2 separate regions of the Homo sapiens genome follow, and region 1 is linked to region 2. The links come from fine-mapping of genetic effects on gene expression. A gene starts in region 2. The other region holds a variant in brackets. All regions are shown on one strand. Distances are from middle to middle.

What was found. PIP is the estimated chance that this variant, and not a neighbour inherited with it, causes the effect.
Region 1: its variant is the best candidate, but not a certain one, in a credible set for the expression of PYGL in sun-exposed skin (GTEx, PIP 0.83).

Annotation. Positions count from the first base shown.
Region 1 is chr14:50,917,004-50,930,127 of GRCh38, reverse strand. PYGL (glycogen phosphorylase L) reads left to right here. Exons shown (of 20, transcript NM_002863.5): 5 at 6,028-6,159; 6 at 9,061-9,172; 7 at 9,505-9,587; 8 at 13,023-13,124. It also overlaps the pseudogene MRPL57P9. Among named protein-coding and RNA genes, the nearest start is that of PYGL, 21 kb to the left of the region's middle. The variant A/T (reference allele first, on the strand shown) is at 8,284.
Region 2 is chr14:50,934,934-50,952,123 of GRCh38, reverse strand. It overlaps PYGL (glycogen phosphorylase L), which reads left to right and starts at 7,641. Exons shown (of 20, transcript NM_002863.5): 1 at 7,641-7,963; 2 at 14,287-14,388; 3 at 16,939-17,017. The coding sequence starts at 7,721. LOC124903314 (a long non-coding RNA gene) reads left to right here and starts at 9,534. Exons shown (of 2, transcript XR_007064163.1): 1 at 9,534-10,015; 2 at 10,919-11,323. LOC400212 (a long non-coding RNA gene) reads left to right here. Exons shown (of 4, transcript NR_170195.1): 3 at 4,357-4,476; 4 at 5,660-5,834. RefSeq lists a silencer at 7,462-7,621 and an enhancer at 8,290-8,813.

The DNA of each region.
Region 1 (13,124 bases), 20 kb after region 2:
ATTTTTAATTAATTTTAACAAAATAGGAAATCATTGTGTTACCTATAAGTAGAGGATATAGAGTTATAAGGGTAATAAAACCTCAGCTATCCAGAGAAGGCCAGAAAGATAAAGGAAAAGTGCTAGAAAAAAATACATCAAAGCTTCAACAGAAGTTGTCTCTGGAAGATGGGCAACTTTTACTGTCTTCTATGTACTCTTCTACATATCTCATTTTCTGTAAGAAATATATATACTATCTTCTATTTACTCTTCTACATGTTTTAGATTCCATAAATAATGTGTATTTTGTAATCATTAAAAGTTATAAAAATGAAATAGGTTGTTCCTCTCCCCAATGGAGTAACCTAGAGTTCCATGTTGAGAGCCTATTTAGCAGGCATGTCCAGGACAACCAACACTTTGACACAACCTAACCAAACAACACATGGTATCTAATTTTAGCCTTGGAAAAGGATACCATGCGCTACTCACTATACTCCAGAATTTCCAAGGATCTCATTTCTTATCTCTTAACTATTATCAGATGGAAGATTTAAAAGAAACTCAGAAAACAAATCTCAATTTTTTTTTTGTCTCAGGTATATTTTCCCCTTACGTTTTATGAAGGGTCACTGTTATCACACCTACCTTTGCTCTTTTTAAATGATCTTTGTTCCAGGAAACTATCTCTTTCTCTCCTATCAGACCAAGAAAGCATGTATTCCAGTGTTCTTTAAAAAGAAAAATAAAGAAAGACCAAATAGGTTTTGCTCATTCAAAATATTGCAAAGCTGGCCAGGTGCAGTGGCTCACGCCTGTAATCCCAGCACTTTGGGAGGCCGAGGTGGGTGGATCATTTGAGGTCAGGAGTTCGAGACCAGCCTAGCCAACATGGTGAAACCCCCAGTCTCTACTAAAAATACAAAAATTGGCCAGGAGATAGTGGCGCGTGCATGTAATCCCAGCTACTTGGGGGCTGAGGCAGGAGAATCACTTAAGCCTGGGAGATGGAGGTTGCAATGAGCTGAGATAGTGCCACTGCACACCAGTCTGGGCAAGTGAGTGAGACCCTGTCTCAAAAATAAAATAAAATAAAATAAAATAAGATAAAAGAAAATAAATTCCAAAGCTAACCTTATCAACCATCATCACTTCTTTCATTATGACTTGAAATTGAATCAGAAGGGTATATAATTTTACTTACCACCTCCATTGTTTACTGGGATGGGATTTTAACCGTCAAACATAAAATATATCATACCATAAAAAAGAAATTATTTCCATAAAAAGCAAAATGCATCTGTCAAGAAAGCAGCAGGCCTTTTCAGAGTATAGTCATGCCCCCACTCAACACGTAACACTGTTCTTACAAAGGCAGATTTGGAGAAGGCTGATGAAAATTCCACATGCTGGGAAGATTTTTAAAGGTTGATGGGCTTTTAATTTTTGAGTCTCTTCAAGGAAGATTTGCAGGCGTGGAGTGTTCATCGTGCACCCCCTGAAATTGTGTTGCTAAAATTCTATATTTACCATCTCCTCTCATGGGGAGTGCAGTAACAGTCCTCTATGAAAATAGCTGGCCTAGGAGGAAGTGGGGAGAAAGACAATTGCAACAACCTCACAGAAGTTTCACAATCACACCAAAGCCCTGGGTGGAAAGGCACTCACAGTATGTATCTCGGAGCTGGATCCAAGTGGCTTCTGCAACCCTTCTCTTGCCTCTTAGCACCCACACCAAGTTCGTAATAGCCAGTCATGCGTGATTCACATTACCCAGCAAGCTTCTAATTATCACTGTGGAATTCTTGGTGTGCCACAGAAACATTTATCAGTTATTATAACATCAGAAAGCCAAGTTCATGGGCTCTCCTGATGACTGTTCACTGGTTCTTTGTCGACTCTGTATCCCACAGGTGCAGAGAAGAGCATTTCTTAGAATTCAGTCAACAGAGTCCCCTGGGCTGACCTCTCCATCCCTGCTGGCTGGGACAGATTCCATTGAGTCATTCCTCTAAAGAAATGCCTAGTCCAGCTGCCACCTGCACCCAGGTTGGCTCTTTTACTCCACAGATCCACGCTTGCTTTCTTCAGCCCCGTGCAGCCTCTGGGATGAAACAGCTCTGACAGCTCACTTGGATGTAGATGAAAGTTCTCCCACCTTGGCCCCCCACCCCTACCCCTTCATATGATTGGCATGTTAGTGCATTTGGGGATCACTGGCTACATGGAAACCTAAATTTACAGATCAATTTGTCAATTCATTGGAAGAAAGCAAGGTAGAGAGAAGGTTTATCACCATCTTGCAGCTTCTGTAGATTTAGTGGAGGCAGCAAGGGATAGTTCTCTCCTCCTCAGATCTACTCAGGTCAACTTGTTATGAAACGCTTGTTTCTCAATCTACCTTAAAAACAAGCCTTATAAAATTGATAGAATTATTCACCAATTCTTTATTGAATCAGCGGGAGATTCACAATAAAGAACAGCAAGCAAATAAACTCTCCTACGAGTTGTTAGCCCCATGAAGCTAAAACCAATCATTTACTTGGCAGGAAAAAAATTCAACCAACATTTGATGGCATTAAGAATCTCATGTAAGAGTGTACCCTCAAAAGAGCAAATGTGGCTTATCGTGGTGGCTCACGCCTGTAATCCCAGCACTTTAGGAGGCCGAGGCAGGCAGATCACTTGAGGTCAGGAGTTCAAGATCAGCCTGGTCAACATGGTGAAACCCCGTCTCTACTAAAAATACAAAAATTAGTTGTGTGTGGTGGCGGGCACCTGTAATCCCAGGTACTTGGGAGGCTGAGGCAGGAGAATCACTTGAATCTGGGAGGCATATGTTGCAGTGAGCCAAGATTGTGCCACTGGACTCCAGCCTGGGCGACAGAGCAAAACTGTGTCTCAAAGAAAATGAAAATAAAAATAAAAAGAGTAAATGCAACCTCTGACTTCCACAGGAGTCAGGGACTGAGCCCACAGGAGGAAGTTCAGTGCCCATCCTCTCTTATCTGAGCATTTCAGGCTTCTTGGGGGCAGGACAGTATATCATCCTGCTGCATTTCTCAGCAAAAAAATATGTCATCAGTTCTCCCATGGTCATGAGTTTTCAGAGGAAAACTGTTTCTGCCTCATCGTCTTCCTATTTCATACAATACCTTCAGATGGGTTTTACAACAGCCCTGCATGCTGAAATGAGGCAAACAGGCCTATGGTTCTTTCCTGTTACAGGAAGCAGTGTTCACATTGCTCAGTATTTTAAAACCCAAAATTGGCCCTTGCCTAAGTGCAGCATAAAGTATTTTGTAAGTCAAGATGTTTTGATCCTTTGTTGATGTCATCATTTTATTTATTATAGCATTTCTAGTTATGAACCCAAGTTAATGGACTTTTTCTTTTTTTTTTTTTTTTTTTTTTTTTTTTGAGACAGAGTCTCACTCTGTCTCCCAGGCTGGAGTGCAGTGGCACAATCTCTGCTCTCTGCAACCTCTGCCTCCCAGGTTCAAGTGATTCTTTTGCCTCAGCCTCCTGAGTAGCTGGGATTACAGGTGCCCGCCACCATGCCCGGCTAATTTTCATATTTTTAGTAGAGACGGGGTTTCACCATGTTGGCCAGGCTGGTCTCAAACTCCTGACCTCATGATCAGCCCACCTCGGCCTCCCAAAGTGCTGGGATTACAGGCGTTGCCACCACGCCTGGCCAAGTTAATGGACTCTTTAACAAGCTTCTTGACAACTGGCAAACTTCAACTGTTTCTTTATTAAAATTTTATTTTATTTTATTTTACTTTATTTTTTGAGATGGAGTCTCACTCTGTCACCCAGGGTGGAGTACAGTGGCATGATCACAGCTCACTGTAGCCCTGACCTCCCGGGCTCAAGCAATCCTCCCACCTCAGCTTCCTGAGTAGCTGGGACTACAGGTGCACACCACCACACTCGGCTAATTTTTAAATTTTTTTTAGAGATAGGTTCTCACTATGTTGCCCAGGCTGCTCTCAAACTCCTGGGATCAAGTGACCTTCCTGCCTCAAAAAAATTTTATCTTTGTTCTCTTATGACTGGGATAGCGGAAGTTTAGTTTTTAATTCTGAATTACAGATTACAGTTATTGACTTTGCATTGCCTTGTAGCTCTTGGCTGCTCTTTGTGGGGTTCAGGGACCAGTAGAATCAGGAGCCCCTGGGAGCTTATTAGGAATGCAGAATTTCAGGCCCCTCCCCAGACCTACTGAGAATCTGCATTTTAAGAAGATGTGACTTTCTGACGAGCTCAGATCTCTCTCCAGCCTTCCCTAGGGTTCATCTTGCATCTGATACCTCCTCCTTCCTCCAGTGGCTCTCTAACTCCTAGCTCTTCCAACTAAAGATGTTGTTGCTATGAGTCCCATTTCCATTCATCATTACACTGGTAGTTAATATTAGTGGGAAGCTTACTGGCTTTCTTGATAAACAACACTATCAAAATTTGAATAAGTGAACTTGTATTCATTTCTCTGGCTGTTGACAATAATGGTTAGTCTAAATTCTCAAAAGATAGTGGCTGTGTTTATTTTTGTCTCTTCACACTGTTCCTGAGACAGGCATTACACTCATGTTTAGGTGATCATGAGATGTCCAACATTGTGTTGTAATTCTTAAGCAGTATCTTCTAAAACTAAAGCTGAGTTTTCTAAGAGGTGAATATGAGGTATCAAATAGGTAAAATAACCATATTGGAGATTATCTCATTGACAAAGCTGCTTTGTTTACCCCCTTCTGGCCAGAACACAATTCCATTTTTTAATGTATAGTCATGCACCACATAATGACATTTCAGTCAACAATACAACACATATGCAATAGTGGTCCCATAAGATGGTAATGGAGCTGCCCCCTGTGGGTGTACCATTTCTTATGTTTTATACTGAATTTTTACTGTACTATTTCTATGTTTAGATATACAAACACCATCGTGTTACCATTACCTATAGTATTCAGCACAGTAACGTGCTGTACAGGTTTGTAGTCTAGGAGCAGGAGGCCATACCATATAGCTCAGGTGTGTAGTAGGCAGCACCATCTGGGTTTGTGTAAGTGCACTCTGTGATGTTTGCACAATGACAACGTTGCTTAAGAACACATTTTTCAGAATGTATCCCTGTCGTTAAGCAATCCACAACTGTATGTGTCATATTTTAAAGGTTTCAATAATTTAAAAATACATCCCCCTCCAATGTGTTTGGTGGTGGTGGTGTTCTTATTTTGATGTGTTTGTTTGTTTGTTGCAAATGAAAATGTATTTGATGTCCAGGATATCCTAAATAGAAACCATAGTTTAAAATCGTATATAAGAAATATTTTGTTATAAATTGACATAAATACCTAGGAAAATATTGAAATTGTCAATAAAATAAGTTCATTACCTCTTGGAATATGTTATTTTCAAAATAAACTATAATCTATAGTTCATTATCAAATCAAAATTACATAAGGATTGAGATAAGCAAAGACTACATAATGCAATAATGTTCTGTACCTATACCAATAAGCTTGATTAAAAGAGTGTTCTGTAAGTAGCATTTTCTAACTGATTCTGTATATTCTAGCCACAAGAATCTTGACTGAACCCTTTGTGTAGGACTCAACAGGCCCAGGTATCCAACGATAAACATCCCTGTAAGGCGTCTGTCTTTAGCTGAAGCTGGACAATTGGATTCACAGACGTTAAGACAGAGGCTCTGGAACACAGAGACCTAAGGGCAGATCTTATCTCTATCGTTTACTGTTTGACCTTGAGATCTTATCTCTACCGTTTACTATTTGACCTTGAGCAGTTACAATTCCTCATCTTTAAAAGAGGATTAAATGCAGTAATACATATAAAATATTTAGAGCTGTATTAGCGAGTATTATTGTTGATGTAGGCTGTAAAAAAGTTACAAAACAGTACTCAGTATTCATAAGTTGTTTCAGTTAAAGATGTTTTAAATTTAATATAATATAATTGAAGTGCTAGGTTCATATTTCCTGACAAATAAATTCTAAGCAATACTGTATCCTTTTGCAGGTAGAAGAAGCAGATGATTGGCTCAGATATGGAAACCCTTGGGAGAAGTCCCGCCCAGAATTCATGCTGCCTGTGCACTTCTATGGAAAAGTAGAACACACCAACACCGGGACCAAGTGGATTGACACTCAAGTATTCAGAGTGCTCGTATAGCCAGCGTTTTGTATAGTATTTAGTACAGTAGATAATACATTGACTATGTAGCATATAGTGGTGATATTGAGTATAGGGCATGTCGTGTTTTGAATAATAGAATATATTTTTGTAAATAAATCTGTTACTTCTCTTAGCGCAGCCCAGTCATTTTGGAGACAAAGGAGCTGAGGCCAAGAGAGGAGTGACTTTTATAAGGGTCATTTTGCAACCAGCTTTGTCAGAAAATTGTCAGTTCTTTTTTTTTTTTTTTTTTTTTTGCCAGAAAATTGTCAGTTCTATAGTAACCAGCATGCTTACCTCTTTGGTTTTATATTAAGGTGTTGATAGCAAAATTGAATAATTTGAAATGTCATTCCTGGCTGGGTGCAGTGGCTCACAACTGTAATCCCAGCACTTTGGGAAGCCGAAGCGGGCAGATCACCTGAGGTCAGGAGTTCAAGACCAGCCTGGCCAACATGGTGAATCCCTATCTGTACTAAAAATACGAAAATTAGCCAGGAGTGGTGGCCCATGCCTATAGTCCCAGCTACATGGGAGGCTGAGGCAGGAGAATCGCTTGAACCTAGGAGGTGGAGGTTGCAGTGAGCTGAGATCATGTCGCTGCACTCCAGCCTGGGTAACAGAGTGAGACTCTGTCTCAAAAAAAATAAAATAAAATAAAATAAAAATAAAAGTTTGCAGTTTACACAATCAATCCTGGAAGCATTTTATTTACACTGTGGGTCCCACTGCTGAGCTAACTTGCATTTACAAAACACCTCTAGATACTGTCATAATGTATCCAGAAATTCAATTAGAGAGAGTGTGTGTTTCTGGGCCAACAGAGGCAAGGTTAGGGGGCAGAGGTAATATAAGTGAGCTGGCCCAAGCCATGCAACTTAGCCTCATAGATTGAAGTCATCACATGAATTAACCCCAAACTGGTACCCAGTGATGTCAGAGCATGAGTCCAGATGTGCTCTGTGCGTGCATGGGATGGCTTCCAATAAAGTCAAATGACACAGTCACGTGTCAGTTTAGGTCCTCTAGGAAACAGACACCAGAGAGAATGAGAAGTGCAAGTGACATATTGGGGGATGCCTATGAAAGACAAAGGGGAGAGGGAGCAGGATGAGGTGGGAAGGCTTCAGACTGTGACACAGGTGTGCCACCTGTGAAAAGTGAAGGGGAAAGAAGCAGCATTCTCAGGGAGAGCCTCAGACCACAGTGCCACTCTGAGCAAGTGGCCAGGCTGATGGAGCCTGACACTAAAGATTGCCCATTAGAGAAGTCTCGGCCCTAGTGTCCCAGCCACATGGAGTGTCCCAGAGAGCGCAGCTTTGGTGTGAGCTCTGAGGGAGCAAGTCCTCTTTGAGGTTCTCTGAAAGAAGATCTAAGCTGTGCACTTCTTGGGCTGCCTTAATTATGCTTCAAGGGTCAGAAGGGTCCAACTCTTGTTTGAACCGAGACTCAATCCCAGCCTGCAAATGACTTTCCCTGATTGATTACAACTTGCTTTAAAAGTCCAGAGACTTTTATCTCTTAATGAAAGATATTTAAATGAGGGTGATTTATTACTTTGAGGTCGCGGTGATCACGAAAGTATGACTGAGTATATGTGATTGATATGGGCCATAATGCTTCATTCATTCACAATTCAGCAGACCAAATTAAAGAGATGCGTGTTTAAGTTTCAATCCTGCCATGACTGTGATCTTGGGCAAGTCACTTCTCTCTCAGCTTCAGCTCCCTCATGTCCAAAATAAGTGGGTTGCACTAAATGAGATCCAGCATCCTCCAGTTCAATTATTCTGTCATTCTCCTTCCTTCGAGCTTGACTCTGATGAGGCCGGGAATAAAAATGAATGATTTCTCACTTGAATTTTCGATGCACTGTGAAACATAGTTAATCTTCCTCTTCTCTATTTCAGTGACTGTCACAAAGATCAAGCTAGATTTTCCAAAGCTTACCTCTTAGACTCAACTCAGCTAATTATCAGCTGATTTGGCAGATCACTGTAGGAATCACTAAAATAACTCCTTATGCAACTTTAAAAATCTAGCATAGCATTTTAAATATTATATGAGATGTTATAGCTTCATAAATTTCCTATTCCATTT[A/T]CTTTCATCATACTTGAAATCAGATCACTGAAAAACCTATGCAAAACATATTCTAAGTGCTATTTTTTGGTGGGTACAGATTCACAATGTCACTTTGTTTGCATATCATATTTTATTATTATTAGAGCAATGGCTTTATCTGAAACATGAAAGATAAACTTTTTTGGCTGGGTGCAGTGGCTCACGCCTGTAATCCCAGCACTTTGGGAGGCCGAGGTGGATGGATCACGAGGTCAGGAGATCGAAACCATCCTGGCTAACACGGTGAAACCTCGTCTCTACTAAAAATACAAAAAAATTAGCCGGGCATGGTGGCGGGCACCTGTAGTCCCAGCTACTCGGGAGGCTGAGGCAGGAGAATGGTGTGAACTTGCAGTGAGCCGAGATTGCACCACTGCACTCCAGCCTGGGCAACAGAGTGAGACTCCGTCTCAAAAAAAAAAAAAGATAAACTTTTTTGAATACAAATACCATATCATTCCATTCCACTGCATTTATATCAGGGCAAGGGCACATGGAGAGTCAACATAGAAATACTGTAAAGGACCATCAGTGTGGATGGTTTCAGTCACTAGATTGTACCAGGTCGGGGAGGAACCACATGTTCCTCTAATACCCTCTGCAGCCCTGAGACCCTCTTCTCCATTTAGGCCTCACACAATTTAAGTTGGTAATGGAGCCAGGAATAGAATTCCATTGCAGTCTCCCAGCCCCTTGTTCAACCTATGTCATCACACTTGGGAAACAATGAGCAGCTGCTTCTGTTTAATCCCACAGGTGGTCCTGGCTCTGCCATATGACACCCCCGTGCCCGGCTACATGAATAACACTGTCAACACCATGCGCCTCTGGTCTGCTCGGGCACCAAATGACTTTAACCTCAGAGACTGTGAGTACAGCACAGGCCTTGGTTTCTTTATGCGTGTGCTTAATCTTTTTGATTGGTAGTTAGAACCAAATTGAGCTTGAAACAAACAAAAAAGCCTTGAGTTTCTGATCTGAACTTCACTGACTAAGCAGGCATTGTATGGAGGAAGTAGGGAGGGCATTTTTAAAGCAATTCTCATGTGAAGTCCAGCATGACGGTGTGTTGAAATCCTTTGGGATTTTTAGGAATTTTAGGAATCCCACATGACACACAGCACAGAGCCAGTGAGATCAAGAGGTTTCCAACAACAATGGCTGGTTTCTCTATTTATTGTTTCTCTAACTTTCCCCTAGTTAATGTTGGAGACTACATTCAGGCTGTGCTGGACCGAAACCTGGCCGAGAACATCTCCCGGGTCCTCTATCCCAATGACAATGTGAGTGATCAAGGTTGCTTTCTTAGTGGCAACAGAGGCAGCTTATTTCACAAGAGCCTGTTCAGTAACCTATAAAACACATTTAATATTGATGTTTTTCCATGTGCAGAACAAGCTCCGTATTTCTTCCTGAATTGTGTAGATTTCTCCTCCCAACCAAGTAAGGAAAACAAATCTGTATAGTGCATGAAATCAGAATTGGTATTTTGCCCTTGATTAGTGACCCCATCACTAATTGGGAAGTTATTGAGATGTATTTTAAAACAAAACCTGGATATAAGAGATGAAGTAAATCACTGGTGAAGCACTGCCTCCTTTCCAGATAGAAATTTTATCTGCAAAGTCAGAAGTCACTGAATATTTTCTGCCTCGCCTCTTCTCTCACTGACTAGGCTCTTTCTGGTCCTCTGCCCTGATGCTAGATGGAGTTAGAGACCCTGGGGCAGACCCATGAACAAACATCTGTTTCTTCTGCCACTGACTTGTATCTTTTTCTTATAGTCAATTATTCTAATTTTATTGTAAATATAGCTTAGTTAAAAAAAAAAAACACTTGGGGCCAGGTGCAATGGCTCATGCCTGTAATCCCAGCACTTTGGGAGTCTGAGGCGGGCAAATCATTTGAGGCCAGAAGTTCGAGACCAGCCTGGCCAACATGACGAAACCCTGTCCCTACTAAAAATACAAAAAAATTAGCCAGGTGTGATGGTAGGCGCCTGTAATCCCAGCTACTGGAGAGGCTGAGGCAGGAAAATCGCTTGAGCCTGGGAGACAGAGATTGCAGTGAGCCGAGATTGCACCACTGCATTCCAGCCTAGGTGACAGAGTGAGACTCTCTCAAAACACACACACACACACACACACACACACACACCACTTGGAACTGGATCTCAGATAACTGCTATTGATTCTTGGTTGTTTTAAATATATGTAACTCTAAACTTCTCTATGGGTAAAATCATTTTCATGAAGCTGTAATGATTTTTTTAAAGTGGTCTCAGAAGCAATAAAATTAGCACTCTGCTTTACAAAGATGGCAGAAGACAAGGATCTTGGGGGGACTAGGACATAAATAGTCCTTAATACCAGATGTCCACCTGGTGTTAAATCATAATCTCTCAGAAAGGAAGATGATTATGTGGATTTTGCTGGAGCATTTTTAGGAACCTAATGGTATATGCTATTATTCCTTTGTGGAAAACATTGTGGCTTCAGTACATTTCAGAGAAATCTCTAACCCAAAAGCAAAAAGTTATTCTATGTCAGGGTCAAAGTAAGAGTTCTTCCAAGTCTGGGACCGTACTGCCAACCTAAACCCAGTCTGCAGGGGCTTGAAATTCATCCTCCTGTCTTCAGTAAGGACCAAAACTAATTTTACTGGGAAATAATCGTCTGCAGTAACTGACAATATATACTAAGTTAGCATGGGGTAAAAAATTGACTAGATTTGTTGGGTAAAAGGGAGTTCTCAGGATCATGTTTTTGTTTGTTTGTTTGTTTGTTTGTTTTTAAGAGTAAGCTGAAAAATCCTTTTATACTGTAATTACAATAACAAATTCATTCTTCTCCTCAACTTGGCCATAGCCCTGGCATAGGTCAGTGATTATACTTTTAAGTATTAGGGAGTTCAGAGCCCCAGATATTCTATATGCAGACCTCTATGCTCATATTCATTAGTTTTAATAAGACTCTGGTCCAAGGCTTACATTTGGGGGATGGGGTGCTCATCATTTTAAAATTTTTAATTTTAATAGTTTTAGGGGTACAGGTAGTTTTGGTTACATGGATAAGTTCTTTAGTGGTAATTTCTGAGATTTTACGCACCTGTCACCTGAGCAGTGTACACCCAATAAATTGTCTTTTATCCCTCAAGTCCCCAAAGTCCGTTACATCATTCTCATGCCTTTGCATCCTCATAGCTTAGCTCCCACTTACAAGTGAGAACACACGATATTCGGTTTTCCATTCCTGAGTTACTTCACTTAGAATAATAGCTTCCAGCTTCATCCAAGTTGCTGCAAAAGACATTATTTTGTTCCTTTTTATGTCTGAGTAGTATTCCATGGTATATATATACCACATATTGTTGTTGGTTGATGGGCGCCTAGACTGATTCCACATCTTTGTAATTGCGAATTGTGCTGCTATAAACGTGTGTGTGTACATGTGTCTTTTTCACATAATGACTTCTTTTCCTTTGGCTAGATATCCAGTAGTGGGATTGCTGGATCAAATGGTAGTTCTACTTTTAGTTCTTTAAGGAATCTCCATGCTGTTTAACATAGTAGCTGTACTAATTTATATTCCCACCAGCAGTGTAAAAAGTGTTCCCTTTTCACCACATCCATGCCAACACCTATTGTTTTTTGACTTTTTAATTATGGCCATTCTTGCAGGAGTAAGGTGGTATCTCATTGTGATTTTAATTTGCATCTCCCTGACAATTAGTGATATTGAGCATTTTTTCATGTGTTTGTTGGCTGTTCATATATCTTCTTTTGAGAATTGTCTATTCATGTCCTTTGCCACTTTTTCATGGGATTTTTTTTTCTTGCTGATTTGTTTGAGTTCCTTGTAGATTCTGGATATTAGTCAAGGCTCACATTTTTAATAGAAGTTACAGTTTTTAATTCTACGACCAGGTAAAGACAGGGCAGCTCCATGATCTATAAAAATCGAAGTGTGATGGCTCAGGGTTAGGACCATTTCTTGGTGACATTTACACGGTTGAGGTGACCGACAGCAAATCTATGTGGGAGGAACTTGGAAGCTGGCCACCATCATGGCCTCTAAGGCCTCCACCCTGCACACCATGGCCTGGCTGCAATCCTGTCTCGCAGTCATGTAGGGCATTCTCAGCTAGTTGTGGTTCTCCACACGGTCCATGGCTGCCAGTGCTTCCTGATACGTTGCCTGCCAGCAGGAGGGCGGTCATGTGCTGGTTGTGCTCAGCTGCAGGAACTGGGGATAAGGTTGGAGGCCAAGTGTCCTCAGGCTGTCATTAACCTTTTCCTTCACTTCTTCCCTGCTTCCCAGTACTTGGTACTACCAATTCCTGAGCCTTGGGGAGCTCCAATGTACACACTGAGTTGCTTTTTGGCTTTTCCCCACTACCAGGTCAGGATTTGGCTGTCTTGGATCTTCTGAATCACTTACCACTCATGCATCTGTTTTTCAGCCTCTAAAAGGTTGTTGCTATTGTCTTTATCCCAACCTCTTTATCTTTTATCTGTATGCCTTTAGAGAATCCTTTCACTGCCATTTTCATGGGGTCTCAGGAAAGAGCAAAGGCTCACAGTTTGGCATTCAAACCACCACCCCTCAGCAGATGTCCAATGGGCCTTAGTCTTAAAGTTCCTAGTGCAGGAGACACCAGTCACATTTTGGCCACACCTACAATATGAACCATTTTTATTCTATCTCTCTGGCTTGAAGTTTTTTGAAGGGAAGGAGCTAAGATTGAAGCAGGAATACTTTGTGGTGGCTGCAACCTTGCAAGATATCATCCGCCGTTTCAAAGCCTCCAAGTTTGGCTCC
Region 2 (17,190 bases):
CTTTGTGAACCTTGTCCAAGCCCTGACTACTGAGACCCTCCAGGCAGTCACTTCCTCGCTGGGCTCTTCTCAGGAAGCAGAGCAAAGTCCTGGGCACTTCTCAGATACTCAGCCTGCCTGGGATTTCTGCTACCTGATCAAGGAAGCCAGCTCCAGGATCCTGACTCCAAGACCAGTGATGTCTCTACTCCCCACACCTCCATGTCATCTTCTCATTACTGCCCCACTTTCCTCAGACCCTTGCCCTCACTCTTAATGTGTCTCCTGAATGTTAATTTGGAGTTCAAAACCAGGAAGGCTCACATCTTCCTCAGAGATTATAAGCACCTCAAGTGCTACAGCAGCTCCCCAAGGGAGATAGGGAAAAAGTAAACCATCAGGAGAAAATCAAAACACTGGTTAATATGTCAAAATATAATCCCAACCCAGAAGTTTCCATCTTAATAATGCTTTTACCATTTCCTGGCACTTCTCCACTCATATCTCTTTTGAGCTTAGCCATCTTTTTTTTTTTTTTTTTTTTTGAGACAGAGTCTCACTTTGTTGCCTGGGTTGGAGTAAGTGGTGCGATCTCAGCTCACTGCAACCTCCGTCTCCAGGGTACAAGCGATTCTCCTGCCTCAGCCTCCCGAGTAGCTGGGATTACAGGCGCCCGCCACTATGCCCAGCGAATTTTTTGTATTTTTAGTAGAGATGGGGTTTCACCATGTTGGCCAAGCTGGTCTCGAACTCCTGACCTCGTGATTCACCTGCTTTGGCCTCCCAAAGTGCTGGGATAACAGGCGTGAGCCACCGCACCCAGCCGAACTTAGCCATTTTATGGACTGAGAAGGACAGAGATCTTTGTCCTTACTTTGCAGAAGTTGAAATCAAGGCACTAAGTGATTCTGCAATCTCAGCATATTCCACAATAGGCATATGAAGGCTGTCAGTGATTTGAGGGAGAGGAAGAAGACAGGCTGGAAGTATTTCCATCTTTTCAGGAACTCCCACTGGACTATGCCTAAGAATTCAAACTACTGTATCAATGAGCAAATCAAATATGACAGGACCTGAAAGTGTCAGGAACATCCGCTTGTTTCAAGACAAGCCAAATATACTCAGGTAACGAGTAAATGGTCACTGTCACAGCCAATTATAGAGATGGCAATGCAGTCAGCTGCATTGTCTGCAGACACTAAGGGAATTCAAAAGTAAAATAAATCTGGGTTCTCAGTCATCTTTCCTTTTCTTTTCCTTTTTTTCTTTTTCTTTTTATTTATTTATTATTATTATACTTTAAGTTTTAGGGTACATGTGCACAATGTGCAGGTTAGTTACATATGTATACATGTGCCATGCTGGTGCACTGCACCCACTAACTTGTCATCTAGCATTAGATATATCTCCCAATGCTATCCCTCCCCACTTCCCCCACCCCACAACAGTCCCCAGAGTGTGATGTTCCCCTTCCTGTGTCTATGTGTTCTTATTGTTCAATTCCCACCTATGAGTGAGAATATGCGGTGTTTGGTTTTTTGTTCTTGCGATAGTTTACTGAGAATGATGATTTCCAATTTCATCCATGTCCCTACAAAGGATATGAACTCATCATTTTTTATGGCTGCATAGTATTCCATGGTGTATATGTGCCACATTTTCTTAATCCAGTCTATCATTGTTGGACATTTGGGTTGGTTCCAAGACTTTGCTATTGTGAATAATGCCGCAATAAACATACATGTACATGTGTCTTTATAGCAGCATGATTTATAGTCCTTTGGGTATATACCCAGTAATGGGATGGCTGGGTCAAATGGTATTTGTAGTTCTAGATCCCTGAGGAATCGCCACACTGACTTCCACAATGGTTGAACTAGTTTACAGTCCCACCAACAGTGTAAAAATGTTCCTATTTCTCCACATCCTCTCCAGCACCTGTTGTTTCCTGACTTTGTAATGATTGCCATTCTAACTGGTGTGAAATGGTATCTCATTGTGGTTTTGATTTGCATTTCTCTGATGGCCAGTGATGGTGAGCATTTATTCATGTCTTCTTTTGAGAAGTGTCTGTTCATGTCCTTTGCCCACTTTTTGATGGGGTTGTTTGTTTTTTTCTTGTAAATTTGTTTGAGTTCATTGTAGATTCTGGATATTAGCCCTTTGTCAGATGAGTAGGTTGCGAAAATGTTCTCCCATTTTGTAGGCTGCCTGTTCACTCTGATGGTAGTTTCTTTTGCTGTGCAGAAGCTCTTTAGTTTAATTAGATCCCATTTGTCAATTTTGGCTTTTGTTGCCATTGCTTTTGGTGTTTTAGACATGAAGTCCTTGCCCATGCCTGTGTCCTGAATGGTAATGCCTAGGTTTTCTTCTAGGGTTTTTATGGTTTTAGGTCTAACGTTTAAGTCTTTAATCCATCTTGAATTGATTTTTGTACAAGGTGTAAGGAAGAGATCCAGTTTCAGCTTTCTACATATGGCTAGCCAGTTTTCCCAGCACCATTTATTAAATAGGGAATCCTTTCCCCATTGCTTGTTTTTCTCAGGTTTGTCAAAGATCAGATAGTTGTAGATATGCGGCGTTATTTCTGAGGGCTCTGTTCTGTTCCATTGATCTATATCTCTGTTTTGGTACCAGTACCATGCTGTTTTGGTTACTGTAGCCTTGTAGTATAGTTTGAAGTCAGGTAGTGTGATGCCTCCAGCTTTGTTCTTTTGGCTCAGAATTGACTCGCTCTGTCACCCAGGCTGGGAGTGCAGTGTGGCGATCTCAGCTCACTGCAAGCTCCGCCTCCTGGGTTCACGCCATTCTCCTGCCTCAGCCTCCCAAGTAGCTAGGACTACAGGCACCCGCCATCACGCTTGGCTAATTGTTTTTGTATTTTTTAGTAGAGACGGGGTTTCACCATGTTAGCCAGGATGGTCTCGATCTCCTGACCTCGTGATCCACCCACCTCGGCCTCCCAAAGTGCTGGGATTACAGGTGTGAGCCACCGCACCTGGCCCTCAGTCATCTTTCTAAATATTTGAAACAGCGGAGCCTGGATAACAACCTTGGTTAACAGATTCATACATTAAATATGCTGAGTGCAGTGTACTCAAATTCCCTCATTGAGCATAAAGCTCAGCCCATGGTTTACACCACCCCTTTCCAGAGTGTTAGTGACCTGTCTGTGGGGCCACTGTGGACCTCTGGCATTTCCCTAGATTGCAGAACTGATTAGAAGATGGTCAAAAACCAATAAACAGTACAAAACAGGCCGGGCGCGGTGGCTCACGCCTATAATCCCAGTACTTTGGGAGGCCGAGACGGGTGAATTACCTGAGGTCAGGAGTCTGAGACCAGCCTGACCAGCATGGTGAAACCCCCCTCTCTACTAAAAATACAAAATCTAGCCAGGCATGGTGGCGCACGTCTGTAATCCCAGCTATTCAAGAGGGTGGGGCAGGAGAATCACTTGAACCTGGGAGGCAAAAGTTGCACTGAGCCAAGATGGCGCCATTGCACTCCAGCCTGGGTGACAAGAGCGAGATTCCGCCTCAAAAAAAAACAAACAAAACAAAACAAGTGAGTAGGGTAATAGGTTAGCTGAGATGCAGTCAGAATTCAGGTTTACTTAACAGATCACAAATCCTGTTTCAGGGGAGGAGAAACAACATTAAGGGATTTGAAAACCTCTTCCATCACTTACTGGTGAGGTGATCTTGAGCAAGCTACTCACCTTCTCTAAGCCTCGATTTCCTCATCTGTGAAATGGAAAGAAAAACAGAACTTGTCCCACAGAGCTGATGAGAAGATTAAATGAGTAATGCACATTATGGGCCTTGCCAGAGTCCTTGGAAAATGCTAGTTGCCGTTTTGATAATCTGAAAGTGGTATGCCACCACAATAGGCCCTGCTTTGAAACATAGTGGGTATTAATCTGTATTTGTTTATCTCATATCTTTCTGTGGTGGTCACTAGAAAGGACCTCATAGATGCCCCAAGCTGCAGGAAGCATAACCGACCCAGGGCTCCAGATAGCCCTGCAGAGGCCATGCCTCCGGGAGGATGATCCCACCAATGACCGAGCAGAGTACCGTGGACTCCTGACAGCAGATGCCCTCCAGAACTGCCCAGCAGCACTGCTGGATCTTCCTGGGACTACAGGGCTGTCTGAGATATGCCCTTCTACCCTTCCCTCTCTCTCCCCTTCACTCTAGGTCACACTGGCATCACAGTCTGATGCTCTCTCTGGCTAGCACTCCCCGTTTTTCCCTCCCACAAGCATTTACCCCAGTAAAAAATCTTAACATGTTTAATCCTGTTTTAGCTTCTGCTTCTCTGAAGACCCGAACTAACACACTACTTTCTCATGTTTTTTTGTATTTCCAACAGTGGGAAACTTACACTTGTCCTATGAGTTCTGGACTGTTTGTTCAGCTACTTACAAACGCCATTTCGTTACAGCAGCCACGGGGAAGCAGTGGATGAGAAGCAGGAATAATATAGGCCATTGTGAGTAAGGCTGCTATAAACATGTGAGCCACTGAAATCTGATACTTTTTCAGGGATCCATAGTTTCTGGTTCTTTCTGGTCAAGAGAGGCTAAAGGAAAGGTTTTTAAAGATATTAATTTTCTTAGTCAAGTAACTTAACCTCTCAAGGCCTCAGTGTCCTAGACTAGCACAGAACAAGCAGATGAAACAAAGTTTATATCAGAATGTCAACTGAAAAAGTATCATTTACCATAAATGGAAGATAATTGTATTAAATTCTAGTTAGATGCTAAAACTTCAAGAACTTTTAGAGTCTGTACCTGCATTCTGTTAAAAATATAGATTAAAAAATGCTAACATGTTAACACAAAGGACTTTCCAGAAAGACTTAAAGAAAAGTGAAAGGGGAATAACTGTCTTGCAATGTAATTCATTGTCGTTTAAGACTGGGTCTATGGAACACCCTAAATCACCTGGTTCCATCACGTTCTTTTTAACATGGAGATGGATAGTTTTTCCCCATACTCTATATATTGAGCATTCTATAGTTCATGATTTTTCTGCATAGAGAATTGTTCAAGCCGGGGGTGCAGGCTCACCGACTGGATAGTGAATCAAGAAAATAGTGTGTTCATTAGTTCATCATTACCCTGAGTTTCCAACAAGAATTTAGTACAGGAAAGTAGACAGCGGAGCTGGGAGCCATCTATTTGAAACTGTCTTAAGCAAAACTAAGAAACCGAGTAAGCTTGCTTTTGGTGTCTTTCATCCCTTCTTGTGTGCCCCCTAATTATTCACTCCCCAATGCCCAGACATTATGATGCCTTCTCCTGCTCAGAGACCTTTCTGGGAGGAAGACCTACTCAGACCTGGTATTCCCTCATCCTAGGCTCTACCCTATTTTTCATCCAGCTGTTAAAGCTGAGTGACTAATTTCACACTTATGTACGAATGACCCATAACTGGCTTAATGCTGTGACCATCTTGGGGGTATTCAAAGCTGATAAACACTTTTTTAAGTTATATAATAATCAAAGAAGCTTATCTTTCTGCTTTATTTCAAATTTCACCCCACAGGCCTTACTTATTTTTAAGATCAATGATTTTGATGGGCCCCCCCTTCCCACTCTTAATTCAGGGTATTTCTGGCCCCATCCGGATCCAAACTCTAATGCTCATCTCTTCCATACTGTCCTTTGCAGGTCATCGGTATTGCAAGAGTTGCATAAGGCCCAATTCAGTCTCTGCCCCAAAAGCTCAAGTCCAAACTTCAGAATCTGGGAGGACAAGGATTCAGGAAATTTTGTCAGAACTATGAGCTTTGAACTTTCACTTTTATGGTGAGGGTCACATTTGGTCTGAATCAATTAATCCATTACCCGCCCCCCCCCCCCCCCCCACCACCACCATGTGTGAATTCAAAATAATCAACTTGGGTTTATTATAAAAAACAAAATATATTAATATAAGTATACTAAGATTTTTCTAGAAAACTTGGCCGGGCGCGGTGGCTCACGCCTGTAATCCCAGCACTTTGGGAGACCGAGGAGGGCGGATCACAAGGTCAGGAGATCGAGACCATCCTGGCTAACACGGTGAAACCCCATCTGTACTAAAAATACAAAAAATTAGCCGGGCGTGGTGGCGGGCGCCTGTAGTCCCAGCTACTCGGGAGGCTGAGGCGGGAGAATGGCGTGAACCCGGGAGGCGGAGCTTGCAGTGAGCCCAGATCGCGCCACTGCACTCTGCCTGGGTAACAGAGTGAGACCCTGTCTCAAAAAACAACAAACAAATAAACTTAGAAGAATATATGTGACTATTGGCCGGGCGCGGTGGCTCACGCCTGTAATCCCAGCCCTTTGGGAGGCCGAGGCGGGCAGATCACGAGGTCAGGAGATAGAGACCATCCTGGCTAACATGGTGAAACCCTGTCTCTACTAAAAATAAAAAAATAAAAAATAAAAAATGCGAGGTGGCGGGCGCCTGTAGTCCCAGCTATTCAGGAGGCTGAAGCAGGAGAATGGCGTGAACCCGGGAGGCGGAGCTTGCAGTGAGCCGAGATCGCGCCACTGCACTCCAGCCTGGGCAACAGAGTGAGACTCCGTCTCAAAAAAAAAAAAAAAAGAAGAAGAAGAAAGAAAAAGAAAAGAAAAAGGAAAAAGAAAACTTAATTCTGGCAATGGACTGTTTCTAAAATAATATATTAATACTACTTAATGAGGAAGAAAAAACCTCTGACATCCTAAAATGCCAAGTGTTTGCCTTTACCAAGGTTTAAGCACACATAAACACGCATATTCAAATACCACCCAAAGTGGAGGTGCAAAGATCAGCCTGTACCGCACAGTAACACAGACTGGGTTGTTTTTTGTAAAGAAGGCAACTAGTCCAGTGAGTAATCCCTTCATTTTCCACACACATACCCTTCTGTTTTCTCCCTCTCCTCCCCCCACACCCTCCACTGCAGTTAAAACGTAATTCGAAGAAGCCTAAGGTAAAAGCCCCTGCCGCATAATGACCCTAGAGCTTCACCTCACCTACTCTGATTCTTAGTAACCTACCTCTAAGGATGAGAGACAGGGTGCTACGAGCGGGGCGAACTTTGGTCCAGGAGTTAAGAAACCTGAACCCTGGAGTCCTCAAAAAAAATGAATGAAAATAACAGAGGCGCCCTGAGGATCCAAGCTGGGGCGGTGCCAAGGGCTGGCAAGTGAGGTTGGGACAACAGAAGTCAAACGTGCCGTCCTTCCAGATCCCGGCGCTTATGGCGGAAGCCACTCCAGGTGAGAAATCCTAACAGTCATAATGGCATAACAAATAAACATCGGCAAAACAGCAGTCTGCCAACGACGTGCTTCCCTACACAGACGTCCTCCTGTCTCCACACTCTAGAGGGGAGAGGCGGAACAAATGCTGCCTCCGCAGATTTTGGAAATCCGGAAGGGAGCCTCCGAGCCCAGGTCCCGGGCTGGCAGGGGTCTCGCCGGCGCTTGGACCTCGTCTCCCACCCCCGAGCCCACTGCGGCCCCAGAGCCTCGGGAGGGGCCGGGCACTTCCTCTGCCCTCCGGCCTGGGGCAGGGGCCGGGACGCGGTGGGAGTGCAGCGGGGACGGCACCGCCCGAGGGGGCGGGCCCCAAACTTTCGTGCGCGTTGAAAGCTGCTGGCGCGGCGGGGCGGACTCCACCCCTGCCCGGCAGCCCAGCGCCTCCGGCCGCACTTCCAGCTCTCTGCGCAGCCCGCCGCGCAGCCCGCCGCCCCAGCCATGGCGAAGCCCCTGACGGACCAGGAGAAGCGGCGGCAGATCAGCATCCGCGGCATCGTGGGCGTGGAGAACGTGGCAGAGCTGAAGAAGAGTTTCAACCGGCACCTGCACTTCACGCTGGTCAAGGACCGCAACGTGGCCACCACCCGCGACTACTACTTCGCGCTGGCGCACACGGTGCGCGACCACCTGGTGGGGCGCTGGATCCGCACGCAGCAGCACTACTACGACAAGTGCCCCAAGGTAACCGGGGGCGGGACGGCGGGCCGGGGTCCAGCCCGGAGTCGGAGTCTCCGGCCGCGGCCGGGCGGGACGAGGTGGAGAACCCCTCAGAGTGGTCCCTTGCACCCGGTCCTTGCCCCGAAGTCCAGAGGAGACGTGTCTAGGCTGTGGGCGGGCAGCCTGGGGGACAGATTAGGCCTCCCAACAGACGCCGAACTCATGTCTCCGAGGTGCCACCCGCCAGTGTCCCGCCCAAACCACTGTGCCGTCCGCCCCTGGAAACCGCCAGGTGGGCAAAAGCCCAGGCCCCTCTCGCCTGTCCACTTCACAAACTTTTTTGGAACTTTGACTCTCAGCATTTAATCAAGAGGTGACGGGGGCCTCTTGTCCTGTATGCCGGACACTATTCTCTGCCCTGGACACTCAGCCCTAAACAAAAGGGACAAAAATCTTGCCTTGCTGGAGCTTGGTATTTTGGGAGGGGAGACAAACGCCGAGCTGGGAAAAGGTCGTAAGTCTCAGGCCTCTGGGAGTGGCTAAGTGTGGTGCAGAGGAGGGGCAGGGTCCCGCTCCAAGCGTAGAGCGCCGCCCACCCATTCTCCTGAGTGGGTGTAGCTCCTGGAATTCCGTGAGTCTTTCGCAAAGGCGGCCCAGGGCCAGGCAATGCCCTGGACTCGTCCTCCCCGAAGACACACACTCCCCCGACCCTTAGCCCTTCCACACCCGAGGCCTGCCCCCAGAGCTGCTGAGGAAGGCTGGTCAGGGACCACCTCCATCCACGGCGTGGGGGCGGGAGCAGAGACCTCCTTAGGGTGATTTTGGACCTACAGAGGGACAATATCTCTGCCTGACAGTTTGCGAAGAGGGCGAGAGGCAGTGGGGAAGGACTGGGGAGGACATGGCAGGGAGAGGGATTGTGTGCAGGCTGGAGTGAGGGCGGGTGTGAGTCTGTATTGGGAGAGGAAACTGGAGAAGCCAGGTAGAGACATATTGGAAAGAATAAAAGATTGGGATACATCCCAGGGGCAGTGGGAAATATATATAAACATTTATTAGAACTTTTTAATTATGTAAAGGTGTGAAGAAAAAAAAATGGTCTATAATCCCAGTGCCCAAGAAACCCCATAGGAATTTTTAAGAAAGGAAATGAATGTAAATTCTCATAGTAAGAAATTGCAACTGTAACAGTTTTCAAATGGAAAGTAACTCTTCTTCACCCCAAAGACCTAGGCCTCCACCAAGGTAGCAACTGCTAAAATGTATCCTTAAAAATTTAAATGCACCTTAGAAAACACTTTATGTATACATATATTTACTGTTTTGTTGTTTTGTTTTGTTTTGTTTTGTTTTGTTTTGTTTGAGACAGAGTCTCACTCTCGCCCAGGCTGAATGAAGTGCAGCGGCGCCATCTTGGCTCACTGCATCCTTCGCCTCCAGGGTTGAAGCGATTCTCCTGCCTCAGACTCTCGAGTAGCTGGGACTACAGGCTCCTACCACTACACCTGGCTAAGTTTGTATTTTTAGTAGAGACAAGGTTTCACCATGTTGGCCAGGCTGCTCTCAAACTCCTGGCCTCAAATGATCCTCCTTCCTTGGCCTCCCAAAGTGCTGGGATTACAGGTGTGAGCCACCACACTCGGCCACTATCTTTTAAAAATTTATTTACACAAAGGGAATGCTACTAAGTACACCATACTGCGCCTCTCATTAAAAATTATTTTTAACAATTTTAAGCGGAAGGGTGGGACACTGAGCATATATTAGAAACACACACTCACGCCTCTGTAGCATTTAGCATCATAGAGCACCAGAGAATCTTGTATGTTTTTCCTTCAGTGGCTTATGCAGTGCTTTATGGTTTTCCTGGTTCTCCGGCCAGTTTCTTCACTGGGCTCTCCTTTTCTACGTGAGTGCAGATATAAGCCAGGAATTCCGACGTGTGTAAATTCTGATAGCGATACACTGGGGATACAACAATGAACATGTTTCATTCCACACGTGTTCATCAAATATCTACTCCATCACAGTCGTCTGTCTAAACAGGATGGTTCCTGCCCTCATAAAGTAGAGCAAGTAGGTGTGTCCAAGCTCCTCTCCCACCTCCCTTGCTCTCCAATAACTGTGCAGATGAATCCCAAATATGGATCCCTAGTCTGAATTCCTTTTCTAACTCTATGCGTACATTTCTGAGTGTTTAGTGAACATATCTAGATATCTTCCTATTTCCTCAAACTCAGTACGTTAAAAACTCAAACCATTATTTCTCCCAATCCTGCCCCATCTTCCCGTGTTTTGTTTTGTTTTGTGACAGAGTCTCACTCTGTCACCCATGTTGGAGTGCAATGATGCAATCTCGGCTCACTGCAACCTCTGCCTCTCGGGTTCAAGTGATTCTCCTGCCTTAGCCTCCTGAGTAGCTGGGATTACAGGTGCATGCCACCATGCCCAGCTACTTTTTGTATTTTTAGTAGCGACAGGATTCCACCATTTGGACAGGCTGGTCTCGAACTCCTGACCTGGTGATCCACCCACCTCGGCCTCCCAAAGTGCTGGGATTACAGGCATGAGCCACCACGACTGGCCTCTGTGTTTTTTGTTTTCATGCCATTGTCATCTTGACAATCCAGACGCAAACTTTAGTCTCACTTTTTGCCGTTCAACTGTTTGCCAATTTCTGTTGATTTCTATAGGTTCCCTTGAATGACGTGCTCTCCTCCATTATCTCTTCCTGCCTTGGTGAGGCTCTAGCTACCCATTTGTTGCAGCTGACTTCACGTGGTTATTTTGCTTTCCAGAAGTGGTAAAACCGGCAGCCTGAGGCTGAATAAGGATAGCAGACATACTTTGTTGGCCAAGACATTTTTCAGGAATTTAATTTTTAGCGCCTGTGGTCAGGACTTGCACACTCCATTTCTTAGCCCAGTACTCTTCTTTGTTTTATGTGACCTCAATTACACATTTATTTTCTCTGCCTAGCTCCTGAAGGCATTTGAGTATATGATCCCGTCTCATTCTGTGCATTGTGGTCTGCTCAAGCTTCCTAAAGCAACGCATCTTGCCCCTGCTCAATTATCATTGGCTCCTCTTGCCTGCCATAGAACTTAAGCAAGTATTCGAAAGCACTTCTCAGTCCAGGTGGGCCTGTTCTTCCCTTGTTATCTTCCATTACCCTCTGTACCCACCTTGCTCTCCCAACAAACCAATCCCCACTCTGGGCCCCCGATTCACTTGCAGTGTCCTTCCTACCACATTTCTATGCTCAACTCTTGCCTGTCCTGCAAGTCTCAGGTTTATTGACAGGTGTTCCAGAGGTCTTCCCGGAAGTACCCAGGCCCTCTGACTAATGCTGGGGATAAAAATAAAACATACAATTTAAAAATATTTGTTATATCTTCTTTATTTTATTTTACAAGCCTTTTGAAAATATCCACTTTTTACATAAAATACTAGTAATCATAGTACATGCATGTAATTTATAAAGTATATTGGAGATGCTCATATATTTTACTATCAGTCATATGTAACAAATATTTAGAGACCAGTAAGTAAGAGTATGGCCAAGATCTATTTTTTGAAGTCTTATATATTCCCAAATATAAGGAGAGATTACCTCTAAGAAGTTATTTGTGAGAAAACAGGGAATCACCTTACGTTCCTGTCCTTATAAAGTCTGTCATGCAAGGAAGTATTTTCTCATTTACTTTATTCTGAGCAACCACATATCTCTCAAGAGAGACTTTGAAATATTTTTAAGAAGACTTAAGTTCGTGCTAATGTGGAATCATTAAAAAGGAGGCAAATTTAATACAGATGTAGTCATTATTCCTGGGGGTATAACCTCACAATTGCAAGTGTGGAATATATACTATATAAACAAGCTTTTTGTAGATTACTTAAAAGAAAAAGGCAAAACATCATGGTTATAGAGATAATGAAAATACACACATGGAAGGATTTTTTTAAACTGGGTAATACTATGCAAATGGGTATTTGTGGCTTAAGATACTATTACCTGTGACAGCGGTCATCACGTACTAGAGCACCAGCCATTGCCTATGTCTGCCCCAGAGAAGGTACTTTTATCCAATCATTCGAAGGTATCTAATAGCTGGTGAGGGTTCTAGTAACAGCATTATAGACATTCAAACAACTTGGATGAAAACGAAGATGATGTGTTCTGGAAAGCAGTGTTAGGTGGCCCGTTAGGTCATGGATGTTGACCATTTGTTGTGAAATTTAGAACTCAATTGTTCATAAAAGGAAAATGGGAAAGAATGAAATTTCCAAGTTGACGTTTTCAAATAATATTTTGTTTTAAATATTTATGTGTAACTAGTATGTTAAATATGATAATACGCCTTTATTATACTGAATTCTACTCACAATTTTTTTTGATTGGCCAAATTATTATTTTTTCTTTTTTTACTTCTTATCTTATGGAAATGGGGCAATCCCTAAAATTTGAGGTAACTATATTGGTGCATTTACAGATTTTTGCCATTTTGTTTTGTGTCTAGTAGAGAAGAGAGGATAGATGATTGGAGAATAAGATATTGTAAAAGGGGGCAATGAAGTTACTCACTGGTGCTTTTTTTTTTTAATTAGTAAACTGTGCTGTATATAAAGAAGGTTTTCAGCAGGTCTGAACTTTGTACCTCTCACCTTCAACTCTGATGATATTTGCCTGACTTTTACCATGTCAAAGGCAAATAATGTCTAAGTCAATAGAGAAATTTCCAATTTCAATAAGAACAAACACCAATAAACCTTAGGTAGTCTTCTTGTTCATAAGGAACTTGCCAGTAAATAGACTTTATAGAAAAATTTGATTCTAAAATTAATTGTAGGCCGGGCGCTTGGCTCACGCCTGTAATCCCAGCACTTTGGGAGGCCAAGGCAGGCAGATCACCTGAGGTTAGGAGTTCAAGACCAGGCTGGCCAACATGGCAAAACCTTGTTTCTACTAAAAATACAAAAATTAGCTGGGCATGGTGGCAGGCGCCTGTAGTCTCAGCTACTCAGGAGGCTGAAGGAGAATTGCTTGAACTAGGAGACAGAGGTTGCAGTGAGCTGAGATTGCGCCACTGCACTCCAGCCTGGCCGACAGAGGGAGACTGTGTCTCAATCAATCCATCAATAAATAAATAAATTAATTAATTAATTAAACTGTAAAATTTCTTACAGTAATCAGCCAAGGAGGAATATTTTCTACCCATGCGGTGTGTGGGAGTTAATCTTTGTGTTTCTTGGATGACTTGAGATAGTCATAGCCAACTCAGCTTACCGGCACCCACCAAGGTGCCCTATAAATATTTTATTAATGAATGGTGAGCTATGGCCGTCTGACTTCTGTTTGTCCAAAACCTATGCTTTATTCATGAGGTTCATGATCAGGAGAGGGAAAAAACACAAAACATTGAATCTACTTAGATGAGTTTGCTTTTTTTCTCCCCGGGGGTAAAAAATACTGAATTACTTCGCCAAAAATAGTGCTTTGCCAAAACCTGTTGTCAGTAACACTTTTATTTAGTCCTTCATACATCTCTATAGGAGTGTTAGCAGAAAGGAGTCACCATCCCAGACTCCAAGAGAGGGTTCTTGGATCTCGCACAAGAATTTGAGGCAAATTCATAGAGTAAAGTGAAAGCAAGTTTATTAAGAAAGTAAAGGGGCCGGGCGCAGTGGCTCGCGCCTCTAATCTCAGCACTTTGGGAGGCCGAGGTGGGCGGATCACCTGAGGTCAGGAGTTCGAGACCAGCCTGACCAACATGGAGTAAACCCCATCTCTACTAAAAATAGAAAAATTAGCTGGGCATGGTGGCGCATGCCTGTAGTCCCAGCTCCTCAGGAGGCTGAGGCAGGACAATCTCTTGAACCCAGGAGGTAGAGGTTGCAGTGAGCTGATATTGGACCATTGCACTTCAGCCTGGTGACAGAGCAAGACTTTGTCTTTAAAATAAAAAAAGAAAAGATTTTGAAATATTTTTAAATATCTTAAGTCCATGCTAATTTGGAATCATTAAAAAGGAGGCAAAGAAAACCTTTTATCAGCAAGGTTTCTGTGACCTGTATCTTGTGCAGACCTCCTATTTCATCCTGTGACTTAGAATGCCAAACGTTCTGAGAATGCAGCCCAGTAGGTCTCAGCCTTATTTTACCCAGCTCCTATTCAAGATGGAGTCACTTTGGTTCAAACACCTCTGACGGGAGTCTCATTCGAACCTGTGGTGACATAGTCCTGCCTGTTTGTTTCTTATTGGTGACCTAACACATGACCTTGTGTTTTTATGTTAAGTGAGGTTGATCTCTTGGGGGAAACATTATCTCTCTTTTCTTTATTTCAGAGGGTATATTACCTCTCTCTGGAATTTTACATGGGCCGAACATTACAGAACACCATGATCAACCTCGGTCTGCAAAATGCCTGTGATGAGGCCATTTACCAGGTACATTGTTCCTAGATTTCTCTCATCCTGTCTCTTTAAATTTCATGTGCACTTCAGGAAACTTGGGGACATTGCACAAAAAAATAAAGTAAAATAAGAGTGAAAAATCGCCTCTATAGATGTGGCTATTACAAACTTTTAGAAATATACATCACTGGTAATCTCTCATTTAAGAGGAACAACCAGAAAAAGTTAGATAACTCGTTATGACTCATGAGAATTTTCTTTTGCAATCAAAGTCTTTGACAGCATTCCTCACAGATTACATTTCAGAAATTAGTGTCTGAACAAGCCTTTTAAAAGTACTTGAGTCTTCTGCTATCAGAATCACAATCTTTACTTTGGGCTTCTATCTCATTTTTAAGAAATGATCAAACTTTGTTATTCATGTATCAAGGCAATTTGTGAAAATGATCAGCTTTAAAAATTCTGTTGTCATACTTTCTCTGTTGCTTAATGAGATGTAAAATACACTTCCTCCTTAAAGGAGAAGCTTGAAGTCTTAACCCTAATGTGCTAAGTTGTTTTCATGAATATATTTAACTTTTTCTTTCCTGAGCTTCAGGCACCTTCATACCCAAAACAGGTAGCCCTTAACCTTTTTGATGTGGTTGAAAGGAGAAATGTGTATTTGCAAAGACACATTCTAAATGAGAGACTGTTCAAACTTTTCATTTCCTTTGCCATGGGATTGTCCCCTCATGTGTCCTTCGCTCAAGAACAAATACGTCTACAACCAGGTCATAGCTAACTCACATACATGTGGGTTAGGTGGAGTATTTCCTGTGAAAGAACCCCTGCAGGTCCTCTCCATGTCCCTTCCCTCTCCTTCCCCTAATATCAGCTGAAAATAACATCTCTCCCTTGGAGTAGCCTATAGCCAGGCAGGGTGATGTGATCCATGTCTACTTGCTCAAAATTTATATCATACTTTTTTTTTTTTTTGAGACGGAGTCTCGTCCTGTTACGCAGGCTGGAGTGCAGTGGCACGATCTCAGCTCCCTGCAATCTCCACCTCCCAGCCTCAGCCTCCTGAGTAGCTGGGATTACAGGCATGCACCACCTTGCCCAGCTCATTTCTGTATTTTTAGTAGAGATGGGGTTTCGCCATTTTGGCCAAGCTGGTCTCGAACTCCTGACCTCAGGTGATCCACCCACCTTGGCCTCCCAAAATGCTGGAATTACAAGTGTGAGTCACCGTGCCAGCCTATATCATGCTTTAGACTTACGTTTTTAGAATTTAAAAATTCTGAGTGTTAGCACCAGCAGTTGGCTTACACCAGGAACCTAGTAAGCTCTAATCTGCAGAGAGCAAATTTGAAAGGCCCTTTAACACTGAACAGAAGCATAACCAAGGTTGAACTCGTAAGATACAGTTGTCAAGACCTGTGTGACAGGTAGGAATCCAAACAGGTGCCATGGAAACGGGGGCACAACTTCAAGCACTGGTGCATCTTCCACATATGTCTTCAAATGTGCAAATTATTTTTCCATTTAAAAAAAATACCCAGTTTCATGGGTTGCCTAACTTCAGATAAGAACCCAGTTGTTTCACAGTAGGCCACCTTTAGCCATGCCTGGGCTAGATTAGCATCTAGTCAGGATGGAACAAGTCATTTGCCTGACCAACAATTCTTTCATCGTAAAATGAGCAATCCAATGTGATCTCCAGGGCTGCAGAGCTCTGTCATGGGTGCCCAGTGGTGCTGTGGACTCTGCTGTGTGATCCCCAGCACTTTGGGGCAGGGAGCTAGCTGGCAATCAGTCCCATCCGTGCCCAAGTTCACAGATGCTATTTGGCTTCCCACAGCTTCTTATCCACCCCAGGGAAAAGTAAAGGATTTTACCCCATCCAGCTGGATTGCAGGACTGCAGTTTCCCTGCCTGCTGTCAGGACCCAGGTCTCCAGGGCAGTAACCCACTAACTGGTTTTGAGTTGACAACTTTTGACCCTACTGAGTAAATATGCTGTGGTCATGAAAAGATGAACTTTAGTCCATTCTGGAACGTCTGACCCTGAGACCTTTCGGTCATTTTCAAAATCCCTCAGTCCAATTAATATCAGCTTGGTACTGGACTGTTTCTGAGGTTTTAACCCTACTGTACACACACACACACAATTTTTTTTAATGATAATAGCTAACATTTATTGAGGGATATCTGCCCAAGAATAGTTCTAAATGCTTTGTTTGTATAATCTCATTTAATTCACGGCAATCATCAGTGAGGTAGGTACTGTTAGCCTCCACTTTTTTAAATAGGAAAATTGAGGCATAGAGTTAGTAGCTTGCCCAGGGTCATGTAAGAAGTAACAGAGTCAATAATGGACTTTTAGAGCTTACACTTTTCTCCATGCTGCAGCTGCACCATCTCATACAGTTTGCCTCTGCAGTCAGTACCTGATGCCAGAACAAGCTGCAAGGGAGCTGACGCTAGATTAGGTACACAGCTAAACCTGAATACCTTTACCCAGAGCTGTAGGAAATGGCTGTCCCTCTGAATGGCCTGAATTTTTATCTGCTTCCAATATTGTTTTCCTTTCATTACCAGCTTGGATTGGATATAGAAGAGTTAGAAGAAATTGAAGAAGATGCTGGACTTGGCAATGGTGGTCTTGGGAGACTTGCTGGTAAGTGACATTGTGAGTGTATTATATTGTCTGGCCGATTGAAGACATCTCAGATGCCATGCATGACCATGCTTGCAAGAACCAGGCAGGCTTCCTAGAAGAAGCGCAAGGTATGACCTGGTTGTAGATGTATTTGTTCTTGAGTTTGCACTTTGGTTTGATCAATTCTAGAC